2 linked regions of the Homo sapiens genome follow. The protein of the gene in region 2 purifies or fractionates together with the protein of the main gene of each other region. This does not show direct contact. Each region holds a gene or a part of one and is shown on either strand. Other genes may lie near its edges.

What was found.
Region 1: the proteins of SH3BGRL3 (region 2) and PCP4 purify together in Homo sapiens (co-immunoprecipitation; 2 studies listed by BioGRID and IntAct, with this or other methods). This does not show direct contact.

What each region holds. Positions count from the first base shown.
Region 1 is NC_000021.9:39,865,321-39,869,068, reverse strand, and holds the start of PCP4 (calmodulin regulator protein PCP4), read right to left. Parts: upstream 1,632-3,748; 5' UTR 1,568-1,631; coding exon 1,559-1,567; intron 1-1,558. UniProt on the Homo sapiens protein: Functions as a modulator of calcium-binding by calmodulin. Thereby, regulates calmodulin activity and the different processes it controls.
Region 2 is NC_000001.11:26,278,493-26,282,170, forward strand, and holds SH3BGRL3 (SH3 domain-binding glutamic acid-rich-like protein 3), read left to right. Parts: upstream 1-1,593; 5' UTR 1,594-1,663; coding exon 1,664-1,711; intron 1,712-2,272; coding exon 2,273-2,440; intron 2,441-2,565; coding exon 2,566-2,631; 3' UTR 2,632-3,030; downstream 3,031-3,678. UniProt on the Homo sapiens protein: Could act as a modulator of glutaredoxin biological activity. May play a role in cytoskeleton organization.

The DNA of each region.
Region 1 (3,748 bases), on a different chromosome or scaffold from region 2:
CCTTCTTGTTGCAAGCAAGGTGAGCTGATGTGGACACAGAAGCTTCTGAAATATCTGTAGAGTCCAGCAGAAAGCCCCTCCTCCTAGCATGTGGGAAATGGAGGTCTCATCCTCATCATTCCATCTCTATTTCAGAGCCCCAGCTCCTTTCTTTCTTTCTCTTCACCTCCCCTCTCCTCCTCCAACCTCTGCCATCCCCTCTGTTCAGCAAATTCCATACACATTTAGACATCAAGATTCACCCGGCAGTCAACCACCCAGCATTGCAGCCCAAGTCTTGGCTCTACTGTTCTTTAGCTGGTGACCTCAAACCACTTAGTTCCCATCTCTGTGCCTCAGTGTCCTCATCTGTCAATTGGGAATAATAATGGTGCCCACTGCACGGAGTTGTTGAGAGGTTCAAAGAAGGTGACAGATGCAGAGACAGCCTGACACTGTCGGCACACAGACCATTAGGCAAGTGTTAGCTGCTGTTACAGGTACCATTGATTGTGGTGGTGGGAGAATTCCCATCTTCCACCCCACAGTTGGTCTCTCCCTGCCTCAAACCCCTGGCTTTGTCCTAAACCCCATTTCTAAGTTTTATAGTGCTTTGCTCTTCTTCTTGTCATGTTTACATCAAAAATCACCCATCAGAGAGATAAAAGCAGGGAGGAGGCATTTTATTTCTGAAGTTGTTAATTTTATCCTAGACTTCCAAGAAAAGAATCATCCATCTGTCAAAAAGAGACAGAGAAGATAAAAGATCTTTAAAAGTAATTATTTAAGTGCCAACCAAGAGGAAATGAAGATGCATTTGGCTCGGTTATTGAGTTGAATTAGAGAATGGTGTTGTACCACCGCTAATCTGCTTCATAGATGAGAAAAAAGGAGAAGATGATTTTAGAAAAACAAACGTGCTGTCAGTTGGCCCCAGTAAAACACATTCTGTATAAACAAGTTTAGAGAAGTGACTTTGGATTTGCAAAATTGTAGCTCTTCTTCTGCCGGGGCCGCCTCCGGTCTTAGAGCCACAGATCTATACACACGGATGTTTCCCAGTTCCTACTACTTTTTGCATTTCTTTCCCTGGTGCTCTGATTAACTGCAGAGGTAGTTTGTACAACTGAGCCATGAAATGCCACCCAACGGCCAGCCCTTTCCCCACCTTGTCCCCTTCCCTTCCATGGCTTGCATTCACCAGATGACCACCTGCCCACTCACATTCTGAAAGGTATCACCGCGGGAATCATGCAAAGACACGCATCTTCGTAAGAGAATAAAACATTTGGCTTTCTCTTCTGAGCTCTAAAACCCAAAGCACTTTTCAAAGTCACCATTCAATCAGAAAGCAAACCTTTCTCCTCCTCAGGCTAATTGTAGAAGTTGCAAACTTAACCAATTTCTGCACTTACCATTCAAACCAAGAGATTAATCCTGTCAGTTCTCCAAGCAAATAATTACAGGATTAATTTGTTCCTCAGCACTGCTAAGTCCCTCACATTTCCTGAGACTAATCCTTCAGCCGAGGTCCCTTCTCACTCCTAAGTTTCCCTCTCCAGGTCGAAGCATCACTCACCTCACTCATGTTGGCTCTAACTCAACAGCTCAGTCCCGCCGCTCAGCACAGAGAACACTGCTCAGGGGTCGCTGCTCCACCGGTTCTGGCTTTTCTCTTAAAAAGAGCTGCCCGGTGGCATCATGCCTCCCTGGAGCCAATGAGATGCATTCACCTGTCTGCAAGCCTGGCCGACATCTGAGAGCACCAGGGGCCACCTAGTGGTGCAAAAGAGAACGGCACGTTAGGTCGCTGCTCCAAATTCCGCCAGGATGGAAGGAAATGCTCGATTTCTTTAAAAAGTAATACACTCCAGCCTGGGCAGCAGAACGAGACCCTGTCTCTTTTAAAAAAAAAAAAAAAGTAAAAAGTAAAAGCTAAAGTTTCAAAGATCATCACAGGGATGCCATTGTGCGTTTTTCAATGAGTGCAAGATTTACATGCATGTAAAATACCTTTCAAATGTCAATGGGAAGGATTGTTTTTCTAAGGGAAGAGGAGCTCTGAAAATACCTGCGTGCCCGCTCACGCACTTTCAGGTTTTCCCAGGAGCTGTGTTTCCCTTGCCCTTTATAACACAAAACTCAGCCCAAGGACTTTAATATCTCTGCTGTCTCTCCCCTATCCCATATCTGTCGCCCTGCTTGTACCCTGAGCTGGAAGGATAAGAGTAGATGGACTGGGACATGGGAATGGGTCCCCACGACCTCAACAAAGGAGGCGAGCGGCTCCAGCAGCCTTGCTGATGTGCCCTCCTCACAACCACAGTGGGGCCAGGAAGGAGCCTGGGCATTGGCCCTGGCCTGGTTGAAGGTCTCCTTGCCTTAGTCCTGTTCAGCTTTTCCGGGAAGAGGTTCCATCCTTTGTTCAGTCCCAACATCGTGAGGCTCTGAAGAGTCTTCAAGGCATCAGAGTGGGCCCTCAACTGTCCCAAAAAAGCGTTGTGCAGACTGAAGGCACATTCACATCTGTTACTCTGCCAGTCCCGGTACAGGACTGAGAGGGTCTGGCGAGAAGATTGAAGCGTCTTGCCACCCGTCCCCAGCACCCCTCATCTCCCTGTGCAGAGCAGGCCACCAGACTCCAGCCCATCAACCCTCTCTCCTCAGCTCAGCAGCCCCACGCCCTCTGACCTGGACTGCCCTCCTTACATGCCCAGGTCACCGATGCGACCACATCCTCAGGTCCACCTTGGACAGCAAGCAGAAGGCCATGCGCCCCCAAATGGGCACCGGCGAGCACAGGCTGCCCTCAGAGGCCTTGGCCAGGAGCACCAGCTGGTCAGCACCCTCGCCCACAGCGTGGGAACACCAGCCAGCAAGACAGAGTCTCATACATGAGTTATTATAAAATAACCTATATTTCACAGAGCGACAGAAATGAACATTATATATATTATATAAAATATGTGTGTTATATTCGTTTCTTTTATATGTATATAAATTATTTATTTACATATCCTGACCACACAAATCATTTGCAAACTAATGAAGACAGCATCCTCCTTCTCTCACTCCCCTCCTCCTCCTTGCCCCCAATGCCACGCTTGGGAAGGCCCACGTGGGATGCCTTTAGGGTTGCCCAGGTGGTTAGTAGTGGGAGAGAAGGAGGAGGAGGGCAGGGTGAGGAACTGGAGCCATAGTGTCATCTGCGATGTAGGACAGATTGACAGATTGGAAGAAGGGTGCTTGCTTATCTATACTAGGAGACACCTGTGATTTCTCAGGGGCAAAAACCACACCCTCCCCAGGGGCCTCCTGCCCTGTTGGGGGCTGGACCCCCACAGCCTGGAGGTGTAGAAGGGGTCTCCCAGTGTGAGCCTCCATGGGGTCCCTGCTGTGGTCCTCCAGGCTGTGCAGAGGGCATGTGGAGAATCAGCCTGTGCTCTGCTGGCTGGCTCTGGAGCAGACCTGCATTTTCTAACAACACAAAGACACATCAAGGGCTGCAGCAGCCTGAGGTTGGCAGCACAGCAATTAGTGCTGAGGCTCCAAGTAGAGGGGCAGGATTGGAGGTGCAGGGCTGGGCTGAGGCTTTGCTGGGTAGACTCAGCAATTCTTTGGGACCAACCAAGGGACTATGAAGACTATTGGGGAGAATGGGTTATGGTCTGAGCTGATTGCCTTCCTCCAGAATTCATACATTCAAGTCCTAACCCTCAATATCTCAAAATGTGACCTTATTTGGAGAAAAGGTCTTTAAAGAGGTGAT
Region 2 (3,678 bases):
GCATCTTGGACCTCATGCCTGGGCCTGAATGAGGCTCTTTCTTAAGTGTTTTTACAAGTTTGTGTTTTATTTATGGAGTGACTTATCCCTTCCATTCAGAGCAGCCCCACCCAGCCAGCCCTTCAGCCTCTGGGCTCCTGCTGCTTAAAGGCAGAGCCGCCTGGTTGGTCTCCACCCTGTGCATTGGGAGCCCAGCCACCATGCTGACGGGTATTTTTCCTCATAAAGTTTATAACCAGTTATTTATATGAATCTTTGTTATGTCCATTTGTTTGTATTGCGTATTTTGATTATAAAATAAAGTATCTTAACAGACTCCTCAGTTTTCCATACCCTTCCATCACCACCACCACGCTATTCTACCCCTCACTTTGGCTTGTTAGAGCCAAACACCTGGGTGTTCAGCCAGGTCCCCCAGGCAGCAGCGTGGAGGAACCTTTGGCAGGTCCAGCCAGCCTCATGTCCCTATCTATCTCTGCCACCTCTGCTCCTCTGTCGTTCTATAGAACCAGATCTCTTCCCACTCACTTTCTCTTGGGCAAACCTTCCCTGAGTCATAACAGAAGTTTGTCACTGGAAAGTTTCAGCAGTCCTCTCAGGAAGTTGGCAGCCTCTGGGTTGCTGTGAGGAAGTGGCTTTACCAGAGCAAGGGTTGTCTTTCTGGGCTGTTAACCTGCCTGAGCCCTGGACCAGGGGGACATCTGAGAAGCATGATGTTGAGTGCCAGACAGCTAGGTCTCCAAAGTTGGGCTCGTTGCTGGAGTCTGCCCCCTCAACCGCTGAATTCTTGCTGGGAGTAGTAGCAGTTTGGGAATGCCATCTGCAGCATGGAGCTGGGGTTGAGCTTGGACCACCCCAAGACCTGGGGTGGATCTTAAGGGTCAGCTTGAGCCTAGGCTCTCGAGTCCTGACATCATCCTCTACCGCCACGCTTTCCAGCTGTCAGCCTTGGTCTCCATCTGGTTCCTTGAGGGTGTGGCCTCTGCGTCCTGCTATCACCCTTCCTTGTCTAAACCTTCCCACCTGAGTGGAGAGGAACTTGGGGGAAAATCTCTAAGCATGGGCTCTTCCTGCTGTCCTATGCTTCCTATCCCCTAGGGTTAGTGGTGCGTGTTGGGTGGTGGAGCGAGGGATCCCTTGGAGCAAGGTTCTTAGAGAACTTTGGGTCTGAAAGCAGCTCAAACCTTCCAAAGCCCCAAGCTTCCCTGTGCTATTAGAGCACCTCCTCCTGGAGAGAGCGGCTCTCGTGGCTGGGGAGTTGGATGCACCAAACCTGTGTGCGGCTGGAGAGGGAGGCTTCTGCCAGACCCTCTCCCGGGCCTGTCCTGCCACCCAGGCCCCTCCCCAGTCTCACACTGAGCTCCAGATCAGGGAAGGGCCGAAAAGGACGATCAGGGCAGCCGCAGAAGGGGCGCCCTGCGTGGGACGGGTCCGTTGCGCGCCTGGTAACCGAGGGGGAAGGGAAGGGGCCTCTGGCGTGCGGGGCGGTGTCGCGCAGGTCCCACCCCGCCTGCCCGCGCCGCCCATTGGTCCCGAGCGCGATGACTTGGCGGGCGGAGCAGGAAGGAAACCGCTCCCGAGCACGGCGGCGGCGTCGTCTCCCGGCAGTGCAGCTGCCGCTACCGCCGCCCTCTGCCCGCCGGCCCGTCTGTCTACCCCCAGCATGAGCGGCCTGCGCGTCTACAGCACGTCGGTCACCGGCTCCCGCGAAGTAAGTGCGCGCCCGGACTGGCGCTGGGGGAAAGCGCAGGGCTGTATCCCGGTGCTTTGGACCCTAGCGCCCGGGACCCACCCCCAGGACGGGGGCGGGGTGGGGGGAGTGCGTCGGCGAGGTGCTGGGCACGGTCTCCCGGACCCGGTCCCGAGGCCCCATCCTGAATGTCTTCATCGGGCATCCTGGGTCCTTTGCAGCCGCGGCATGAACTTCCCGTGCCCATCCCCCATCAACCCCACACCCATTCTCTGCACTCCCACTACCGGGCTGACCCTGACCACGACCGCAGCCTGCCCTCCCCTCCCCTCCCCACCCTGAGCCTGATCCCACTTCCCTTCACTCTGACCCCCTCCCCCGTGGCTGATAATCCCTCTCTTCATCCTGCACCACCTCAAGCCTGACTCATCCTCCCAACTCCTAGAGGCCAGAACCCTCCCCTAGTGTGGAGGGGAATGGGGGGACAAAAGCTCCTGGTCACAGCCTCTCTCACCCTGCCCAGCATTTCCCCCATAAATCCTCCAGCCTATCCACTAACCCCTACCCACCCTCTGTCCCCAGATCAAGTCCCAGCAGAGCGAGGTGACCCGAATCCTGGATGGGAAGCGCATCCAATACCAGCTAGTGGACATCTCCCAGGACAACGCCCTGAGGGATGAGATGCGAGCCTTGGCAGGCAACCCCAAGGCCACCCCACCCCAGATTGTCAACGGGGACCAGTACTGTGGGGTATGGGCTGGGGGACGGGGGGGTGGGGGGAGTGTTGGAAGAGGACTCTAGCCAGGGTCATATCTGCCACAAAGCACTTGGGCCCCCTGCATTCAGGTGACCACCCCTCGCCTCCCCTTCTCCAGGACTATGAGCTCTTCGTGGAGGCTGTGGAACAAAACACGCTGCAGGAGTTCCTGAAGCTGGCTTGAGTCAAGCCTGTCCAGAGTTCCCCTGCTGGACTCCATCACCACACTCCCCCCAGCCTTCACCTGGCCATGAAGGACCTTTTGACCAACTCCCTGTCATTCCTAACCTAACCTTAGAGTCCCTCCCCCAATGCAGGCCACTTCTCCTCCCTCCTCTCTAAATGTAGTCCCCTCTCCTCCATCTAAAGGCAACATTCCTTACCCATTAGTCTCAGAAATTGTCTTAAGCAACAGCCCCAAATGCTGGCTGCCCCCAGCCAAGCATTGGGGCCGCCATCCTGCCTGGCACTGGCTGATGGGCACCTCTGTTGGTTCCATCAGCCAGAGCTCTGCCAAAGGCCCCGCAGTCCCTCTCCCAGGAGGACCCTAGAGGCAATTAAATGATGTCCTGTTCCATTGGCACTGTGTCTGGTTGGTTGTGGCCTGGGCCTCCTGGGTCCCTGCCCTGGGCAAGGTTGGTAGTTGTGACTGTGCTGAGACTGCTCTGTGGGAAGGGTGGCTGAGCTGTTCTCTTGTGACTGTCACCTCTGTGTTTGTTAGTGCATGTGTTTGGATATGTCTGACACACAAATACCTGTATGGACCAGTGGTTTCTGGAGATGTCTGGGTGGGCCACCCTCCAGTTCACATGCATGTGTCCATATCATGCTTGTGCCTTGGTGTGTAGTGCACATCTCCATGCCTGTCAGTGAGTGTGGCCATCCCATGCGCCTGTGTTGGAGCACAATGGCTAAGAATGAGTGTATCATGGGAGGTGGGTACCCAGCTGCAGTTCTGCTAATTTGGGGGCATGGGTCTAGTGGCAAAATGGCTTTGTGCGGTGTTGAAGTGTCCCCACGAGTTGGTGGGTCTGTGCCTGTGCACAGGTATCTGCTGGCTGCACACATACACAGTGAGGCTCTGCTGTCCCAGCTGAGAATGTAAACCCAGCTGGGGCCAGCTCCTTCCCCCCACTGCATCCCTCCCTTCACAGGATCCACTTAGCCCTTCTTGGGAGAAAGAGGAACCTAGAAGACAAAGACCCAGCAGCCAGGCCCGCCAGCCGGGGCT